2 separate regions of the Homo sapiens genome follow, and region 2 is linked to region 1. The links come from fine-mapping of genetic effects on gene expression. Tissue or cell type: stomach. Region 1 holds a variant in brackets; the other region holds the start of a gene. All regions are shown on one strand. Distances are from middle to middle.

The links. PIP is the estimated chance that this variant, and not a neighbour inherited with it, causes the effect.
Region 2: DHFR2 starts here. The variant in region 1 is fine-mapped to the expression of DHFR2 in stomach (GTEx, PIP 0.93).

The regions. Positions count from the first base shown.
Region 1 is chr3:94,308,395-94,312,730 of GRCh38, forward strand. No RefSeq gene overlaps it. Among named protein-coding and RNA genes, the nearest start is that of NSUN3, 250 kb to the left of the region's middle. The variant A/C (reference allele first, on the strand shown) is at 2,708.
Region 2 is chr3:94,060,873-94,065,208 of GRCh38, forward strand. DHFR2 (dihydrofolate reductase 2) reads right to left here and starts at 2,044. Exons shown (of 2, transcript NM_176815.5): 1 at 1,874-2,044; 2 at 1-734. The coding sequence starts at 639. The coding sequence ends at 76. NSUN3 (NOP2/Sun RNA methyltransferase 3) reads left to right here and starts at 2,189. Exons shown (of 6, transcript NM_022072.5): 1 at 2,189-2,266; 2 at 3,565-3,674. The coding sequence starts at 2,255. RefSeq lists an enhancer at 2,083-2,322.

The DNA of each region.
Region 1 (4,336 bases):
ATGTGGATTCAGAGTGGAGTGAAGGATTATGTCATTTTTGCATTTTACCCCAAGATATATCTAAATACAGATGTATATAATATTTCTGTGGATTTTTTTTTTTTTTTACAGCAAACAATTCTCAAATTTTGTTGCTTTATTTTATAAGTGTAGACCTGGTGCAATTCTTATCTCCCAAAGCCCAGAGGATAATTTTGCCTAGACCTCATCTTGCAATTTACTGTGTTACAGAGTATGGAGATTATAGAGATAGGTTCAAAAATAAATAAGAGTATAAACAATGAGCAAAAGAGAGGGATATGAGGAAAAGTATTACATATAAAAGTAAAAGGTATGGAATTTTCATGTCTTACCTGGGCAGAAAAAGGAGGGGAGGAGAGTGCTCTCTTAATTTTGAGAAGGACTGCTTTGGAGAGCCTTTTGAATTGTACAGATATGAGGCCACTGAGATGTTTAATATTAGAATAATGTAAGAAAATGTGGTGTTATATATACTGATTTTCATGCACAGTTCCTGGTTCATAACTCTCATAACCCTTGTTACAGTCTTTTGTTATAAAGTTGGGTGTGTTAGGTTTCAGGGGAAGGCCTCAGGAAATAGAATTTCTCTGACCTTCTCCTATCCTCCTTTCACCTGCCTCAAGGCAGGAATCAAATCTTCCCCACCTTTCTGATTGAAGGTTTTAAGACCCAGAGAGGGTCCTGCCCTATACCCTGGTGGAAGGAATGCTGATGTCATGAAGCTTCCATAAAAACCAGTGACGACTGGGTTCAGGAAGCTTCCAGATAGCTGACCACAAGGAGGTTCCTGGAAGGTGGTGTGCCCAGGGAGGGTATGGAAGTTCTGCCCCCCTCCCTCCATACCTTGCCCTACACATCTCTTCATCTGTAGCCTTTGCAATATCTTTTATAATAAACCAATAGATGTGTTTCCCTGAGTTATGTGAGCCATTTCAGCAAATCAAACCCCAAAGATGGGGTTATGAGAACTCCAACTTGAAACTGGTTAGTCAGAAGTTCTGGAGGCCTGGACTTGTGACTGGTGTGTGTGTAGGCAGGTGGCCATGGGGACTAATACCTCAACCTGTGGTATCTGGCCTATCTCCCGGTAGACAGTGATGGACTTAAATTGGAGGCCACCCAGCTGGTGTCCATTGCTTAGTGTGTGGGGAAAACCTCCCACACATTTGGTCACAGAAGTCTTCTTCTGTGTTGATTGTAGTTGTCGTGGTGTGAACACATAGAAAAAATGGTTTGAGAGTTTTCTGAAACAAAATATAAAGTTTTTTTTTTCATTCTATCATTGAAGGTATCATTGTAGAAATTTTAAAAAGTCATATTGACTGTCCATATATGGAGGAAGGGGCCTAGGACTTGGGGGAGAAGAGAAGAAAAAAATCTTATATTTCATGTGTTTGCTTATGAATTCTTTCAAATGTTCATTCATCCATTCGACAGGTATTTATAATGCCTCTCCTGTATGCCAGGCACTGTGTTAGGTTCTGAGGTTATAATAAGTTTCAATCCCCCAGATATGATCCACGCCTTCTTAGACCCTTTAGTTTTACCTCTATCCATGCTTGGGGGTGAAGAAAATTAGGGAACAGGCTGTAGAAAGTTAAGTGTTTCAGAGAGAATCCCATGAGTTCCTCACAGGATAGAAGCCAGGGCAGGTTGTCACTCTAAAAGACAAACGGTGGCAGTCAGAAATAAACTGTGAAGTGCATCAGAACTTACTGGGATTCCTCAACATCATAAACAACAAAATTGAATAGACACAGATTGGATAATGACTTGCACTATTATAATTTGTACATTAAAGGAAAAGTGATGCAGAAAACTGGTAGTTATTCGTTTACTTATTTACCTGTTTCTTTCCTCCTTACTGCCCCTCCCACCCAATTAGGAGACTTGAGATACTGTCTTTCAATTCTTTTGTTACACTATTCTAACGGCTAGCACATTGCATGCACAAAGTCTGTGTTAAAAATTGTTTTCTCTTTGGGGGAGAAGGAATGAGAGGAAAAGAAATAAGAAGGAATGTTCAGTGGCCTCTGGTTTGAAATAAGTAATTAGTTTATTATTCCTATTGGGTTACTCCAGGGAGAGGTCGCTGTCTCTTTGCATCATATGGTCCCAAATGGCTCCCATGCATATGCTGTGGGATCTGCATTTGGGCTTTCATGTGCATTTTTAGAGTGACAGAGGCTGTACTTATTTCTATTTTTAGTTATTTATTTTTTCCTAGGAAGTAGATGGTACACATTATGTTTTTTCTTCTGGATTTTATGAATTTGGGCTGACACATCAGTTCAGATGTTATCTTCAAAACATAAGCCCTAAGATCATGAATCATGATGTAGTATTACAAGGTAGCAATAATTTGATCAACTGTTTACAGTTGATTTCTCAGAAGGCTGCGTCTTTGTCTCTCAAGAAAATGACAAAGCTTTGGATGAGGTTTCATTTCAGGGGCTTGGAGGTAACTTAGTGTCTAACACCAAGTGGCAGGAATGTTTTAAGCTAAGACTCAAGTAAGAGATTCCCCTGAGGCAGATGCTGATGCTTTGTTTAACAAAGCAAACTATGAGTCCAAATTATTCATTACCATATTCATAAGTAATCTATTTAGTAAGACGGTATGAAGATAATAATAAAAACAAATATTGAATAAAGCTCTTTCCATGTCAACCTTTCCAGCACAAAC[A/C]GTATGCCAGCTCATTGTTAGTCTGGAATAAACGATTTAAAATTAATGAGTATATCTCCTTATTGCTAGGTGAGATGCTAAGTAATTGGAAATATGTAGCCAGACTTCCCATGAAAGCTGTCTTACAAAAAAAATGCTTGGTAAAGAAAGAGAGTTTATATTCATTTTTAATGGATTTGAGTATTCAAAATGTATTGTATGTGGTTCTCTTGCTTAAATGTAATCATAATTTGTATTTAAATGAAAGGAATTATCAACAATATTTGCCAGTATTTTTCTAATCCTTTCTTACTTCTTTCCATTCTTTGTTGTTTATATCTCCCTTTTTTATGATATTGCAGCTAGAGTCTGAAGGCAAGTTGCAAGCAGTAATCTGGTTGCACTTGTTTTTATATTCTCTTGATTTTATACCCTCCTTTGTGTTTCAGATTATTTGAGTAATTATTGTGCATAGCCTACTGCCATTTATAGCCATTCAAGAAGAAATATAAATCTGTTCCATTTTTGTATCCTGATTACTAACAGTATTTTAACAAGGTAGTAAAGTTCTTGATCCTGACATGTTAACACAGTGAAAGGCTATTTGCTCGCCTTGTAATCATCTCAGAAAAAGCTGAACTTTTTTCTCCTTGGGAAAGAATGAATAGAAACATTTGATTTATTCTTCCCTTATGATCTTCATTTTATAAAACTGGGAGAAAATGATGATGCGATACGAAGGGAATCTCTGCAGTCATAAGAACAAATCTTTATGAGGAAAAGTGAATTGTTGTCTTTGTTCTTGAAAGTACAAAGTGGAAAGGAGTTCAGTAGGCTGCTGAAAGAAGGCCAAGAAACCTCTGTTGGGGAAAAAGAAAAGTCTGGAAAGTAAACTAAATTCTGTTGGAAAAGGAAAGCATTCTTAATTCTTCAAAGAGGGTACAACTACAATCAAGGCAGAGGAAAACTAGTTTTCCTTGATTATAAAATAAGGGACAGAGAGAAGCAGGTGTCCCATGAAGATAATGATGCTCCAGGGAGGGGCACTAGGAATGCATTTTCATAGACATGTGCCTTTTTATTCTTATTCTTAGAGAGGGCTCTTTAAATTGTATAAACCACATAAAACCGGGATCTGCCTTTGGATGCAGTGTTTGAATGACCAGTGCTCTTAAAAAACACAAACAAACAAGAGTTGACTTTGGATAAGGAGGCCAGACAAACTAGAGGCAAGTTTTAAGTACTGAATGTATGCAGAGTACATTTACAAAATTTTGAAGTTCTTGTTTCATTAAAATTTACTTTATCTGTAAATGAATTATTTAAATATGCTCAGAAAGCTTCCCTCTGAAGTAATTTAAATTTTTAAAAGTTGTGAATTTGATTAGTCAATCCTTTTATTTTTAGAGCTGTCAAGGAAAAGATTTGTTCTAAGTGCCAAGAATCTGAGCCTATGGAATCTGTATTAAAGACTGTTTTTAACACACTTTCAAAATGTATCTTTATTTTAGTTTTTTCTTTCACTTATATATTCATAGTTATGAAGTACATGACAGAGTTCTGCTGAAGATCATATATTTACATTACACATGGATTAAATCTTAACATAACAAGTTCTTATCAGTGACAAGGTTATTACATGTGAGCCTT
Region 2 (4,336 bases), 250 kb before region 1:
TCCCTTTTCTAATGTAAAAATGCATACTTTTCTCAGAGGGAGGGGGAACAACTTAAACCAGAAAACACCTTCATATTAATCATCCTTCTCACATACTTCAAATTTGTACTTGATGTGTTTCCCCTCCTGGACATCAGAGAGAACACCTGGGTATTCAGGCAGAAGTTTATATTTCTCCAAGTCAATTTCTGAAAAAAACGTGTCACTTTCAAAGTCCTGCATGATCCTTGTCACAAATAGTTTAAGATGGCCTAGGTGATTCATGGCTTCCTTATAAACAGAACTGCCACCAACTATCCAAATCATGTCTACTTTATTTGCTAATTCTGGTCGTTCAGTAAGTTTTAAGGCATCATCCAAACTTCTGGCAAGAAAATGAGCTCCTTGTGGAGGTTCCTTGAGTTCTCTGCTGAGAACTAAATTAATTCTATCCTTTAAAGGTCGATTCTTCTCAGGAATGGAGAACCAGGTCTTCCTACCCATAATCACCAGATTCTGTTTACCCTCTACTGAAGAAGTTGTGGTCATTCTCTGGAAATACCTGAATTCATTCCTGAGCGGCGGCCTGGGCAGGTCCCCGTTCTTGCCGATGCCCATGTTTTGGGACACAGCGACGATGCAGTTTAGCAAAAGAAACATGACAGCAGCGGTTAACACCTCCGAACTTGCTGGCTACGCCAGGAAGCCAGGCCAAGAATGCCGCGAAATTCCCTTCTTCAAATTTTTTTACGTGCCTACATTGCAAATACAATACCACTGTATTAATTAATTGCAACATTCTGGAATGAACATAGAAAAATAAATTATATAAAATATATTTATAAAGTATAAATTTATAAAATATTTATAAAATATAAATTTATAAAATTATAAAAAATACAGAGGCTGAAAGGTTAGACCGACTTTTCCACAAACATTAAACAGACGGCATCCAAGAGATGGCATCATTTCATTCCTGATTATCATAGTCTTTTGTACCAAATCTAAATTCTAATAAGATGCATTTTTTAGGTGACTTGGAAACTTGTTTAAATAAATAAATATATTAAGCTTCAAATCAGATTAGAAGGAAAGACATGTTTTTACATGAATATAAGACTTGTACCTATAGCATGTACGTATATTGATATGAGCATCAAGGAACAACTCAAAATGATGATTATTAACTATCAGGGACCATATCAAACCGGTTTTTTCTAATTGCTGATTGCTGCTACAAATGATAGTTACTGAAGCATGACACCAAAAGAGCAAATAAACTTCTATTCGTGTCAAAATAGGTGTAATAAACATCTTCCTTGGAGAACCATTAAACATTGCTCCCTTGTAAAGGTGAATTGGGGAGGCTAGAGTGGAGGGTCCTTTTGGTCTTCACGCATTTGGTATCAACGCGACAAAAATCACAATGATCACAATAGTGAAAATAATAGCAGCTAACATTTGGGCATTTACTGTTTCCTAATCACTGTTGTAACCGCTTTACATGCCTACTTCAGTTTAACACTCTCCATTAAAAGGAGAGATTATCCCCATGGGCCAGGTCTGGGGAAAAGCATGACTTAATTTCTTTTTCATTATATTCCACCCTTTTATCCTTGGGTACTGAATGTCTAGGTTAACAGGGGTCACTAGATTTGGTAGATTAAGTCAGTAACTAGCTTCGCTTTGAGAATATTTTAAATCAGTCATCATACAACATAACCCCAAAACTCATTCCTTTATTGAGCCCCATGCATATACACACTGTTCAGCACAATATGCGACTTTTTATTTATTTTTGAGACAAAGCCTCGCTCTGTCGCCCACGCTGCAGTGCAGTGGCGCGATCACGGGTCACTGCAACCTCAAACTTCTGCCCAAGCGATCCTCCCACCTCAGCATCCGCAGAAGCAGGGGCCGCACAGGCGCGCAGATGTGTGACTTTCTAAGGTCCGGCCGCCCAAAGCTACGCCGACCAATCCAAGTAGCGAAAGTCGCTTTGGCCCTGGCCCGTTACCTCCGCGTCCTGGGAAGTATCAGCCTTTACCAGCTACCGGAAGTAACTGCGCACGAAATCTCCCGCGGGAGCTAAGCCTCTTCGACAAGAATTCTATAGCGCGAGCAAATCAGTATCTCGCGAGAAATTGAAGAGGAAACGTGAGAATGAAAGTGGATGCCCGCGAATCCCGGAAGTCAGACTGTTTTTTTCAGTTCCCTGGAGGCTTTTTGATACTGATTCGCGTACACCTGTTGTTTGAAAGCTCTCAGCGGGACAATGCTGACCCAGGTGAGACCTGGGGCCCGGCTGGGTACCTCTATCTGAATGAGACGCTTCTGGACGCGGCCGAGGTGGCGAGGGAGGGTGCTGGGATGGGGGAACATCACCTTTGTTCGTCCCCTCGCGAGATCAGCGTTTCTTTGGCTTTACTGTCAAGCCCTGAAATAATGCTGAGTGCTGTAATGCTGAGTCCCTTCCGTCCAGCTCGCAGACTTCTAGTACCCACTCCCTCCAGCTCTTGGAGGGCTGAGATTTGTTTTCTGTGTCACAGCGGTATCCCGGGAGCTTAGAACAGTGTCTGTTACATAGTAGGCATTGAATACACGTTTCTTGGATGAATAAATGAAACAATTGCAAGGAAGTTCACGATGAAATTGGAGTGACTTTTCTCCCTAAATTAACTTTTCACTTTAAAATAACGTTGCAAAGATAGTACAGAGTTCTCAAATACCTTTCACCAATTTTTCTTGATGTCAGCATCCCCGGTGACTTTTTAGTTTTGTTTAGATACAAGTTCTTGCTCTGTCACCCAATCTGGAATGCAGCTGCTCCATCATAGCTCACTGTAACCTTGAACTCCTGGGTTCAAGCGATCCTCCAGCCTCAGCCTCCCTAGTAGCTAGGACTACAGGAGCAGGCCACTACGCCTGGCTAATTTTTTTTTTTTTTTTACTTTTTGTAGAGACACGTCCTTGATATGTTTTCCAGTCTGGTCTTGAACTGGGAAATGATCCTCTCGCCTCGTCCCTGCAAAGCATGAGCCAGCTGGAGTACAGTGGCGCGATCTCGGCTCACTGCAACCTCCACCTCCTGAGTTCAAGCGATTCTCCCACCTCAGCCCCCTGAGTAGGTGGGGTTACAGGCGCCCACCACTACTCTCGGCTAATTTTTGTATTTTTAGTAGAGACGGGTTTCCCGTGTTGGCCAACCTGGTCTTGAACTCCAGACCTCATGTGATCCTCCCGCCTCTGCCTCCCACAGTGCTGGGATTACAGGTGTGAGCCACCTGCCTAGCCCCTACAGTGACTTTTTAAAATTAATTTTGTTCCTTTTGACAGTTTCTTCAGCCCCAGTAGATTCTGTTTTAACCTTTGCTTCACATTTGGAAAATAATTATTTGGAAAAACCTTGCTTTTTCATAATTAGATAATGTACAGTTTTGGTACATGTAAGGTATTGCTTCCATTTCAAGAACTAGTAATTATCCAAAAAAAGTGTTCTTGTCTTAAAAAAAGACCTTGCTAATGTTGACGTTCAGTAAATTTGTAATATCACTGTGTGTCAGCAACTTTTTCTTATCGTCATAGCTGAAAGCAAAATCAGAGGGGAAGCTTGCAAAACAGATTTGCAAAGTTGTGTTGGATCATTTTGAAAAACAGTATTCCAAAGAACTCGGAGATGCCTGGAATACAGTAAGGTTAGTATAATTCATCTCGATGCTTTATGATGGAACAAAGTACAATATGTAGTCCTCCTTTTTGTGGGAGGGATGCTGTGAGGTTAAAAGGCAAAGGAATCTAAATCTGGTTGCCTTTTCCTACTGAAGCTATAGAAAGGAACAACTAAGAAGAAATAGAATGAATCATAGCATGTTGGAAAGGGGAAATAAAACTTTGTCGGGATGGTAAGCACAAATTGTTACGCCTTTGCTTTGAGCAATTACTTTGATCCTTGAAATAGGAATGCCCACTAGTTTGACAAAATTAATTATACTGTAAAAGAAAAAAACATAAAATTTGGAATATTTGACTGATTTCTGAAATTTAGAAGATAATACAACAAATCTTTAAAGCCAGCACTGCTTTATCTCAGCCAAAGGTACACTTTATTTGGTAATCATATTTCTTTCCTATGTCGATGGCTGGGTATATTTTGAACACGTGCATATACACACAAAATTATTTAAATATAAAAATAAGGAATGTTTAATGCATGGAAGTGGGAGAAATGTGATTTGTCTGTTTGGTAAGATGATGTTAATGTATGGATTACTGTATGGGTTCTTGACATTGAGTGCCTGATACACTATATAACCCTCTCTGGAATACAGAGCAAGACAGTCTGCATGTCCAGTTTACA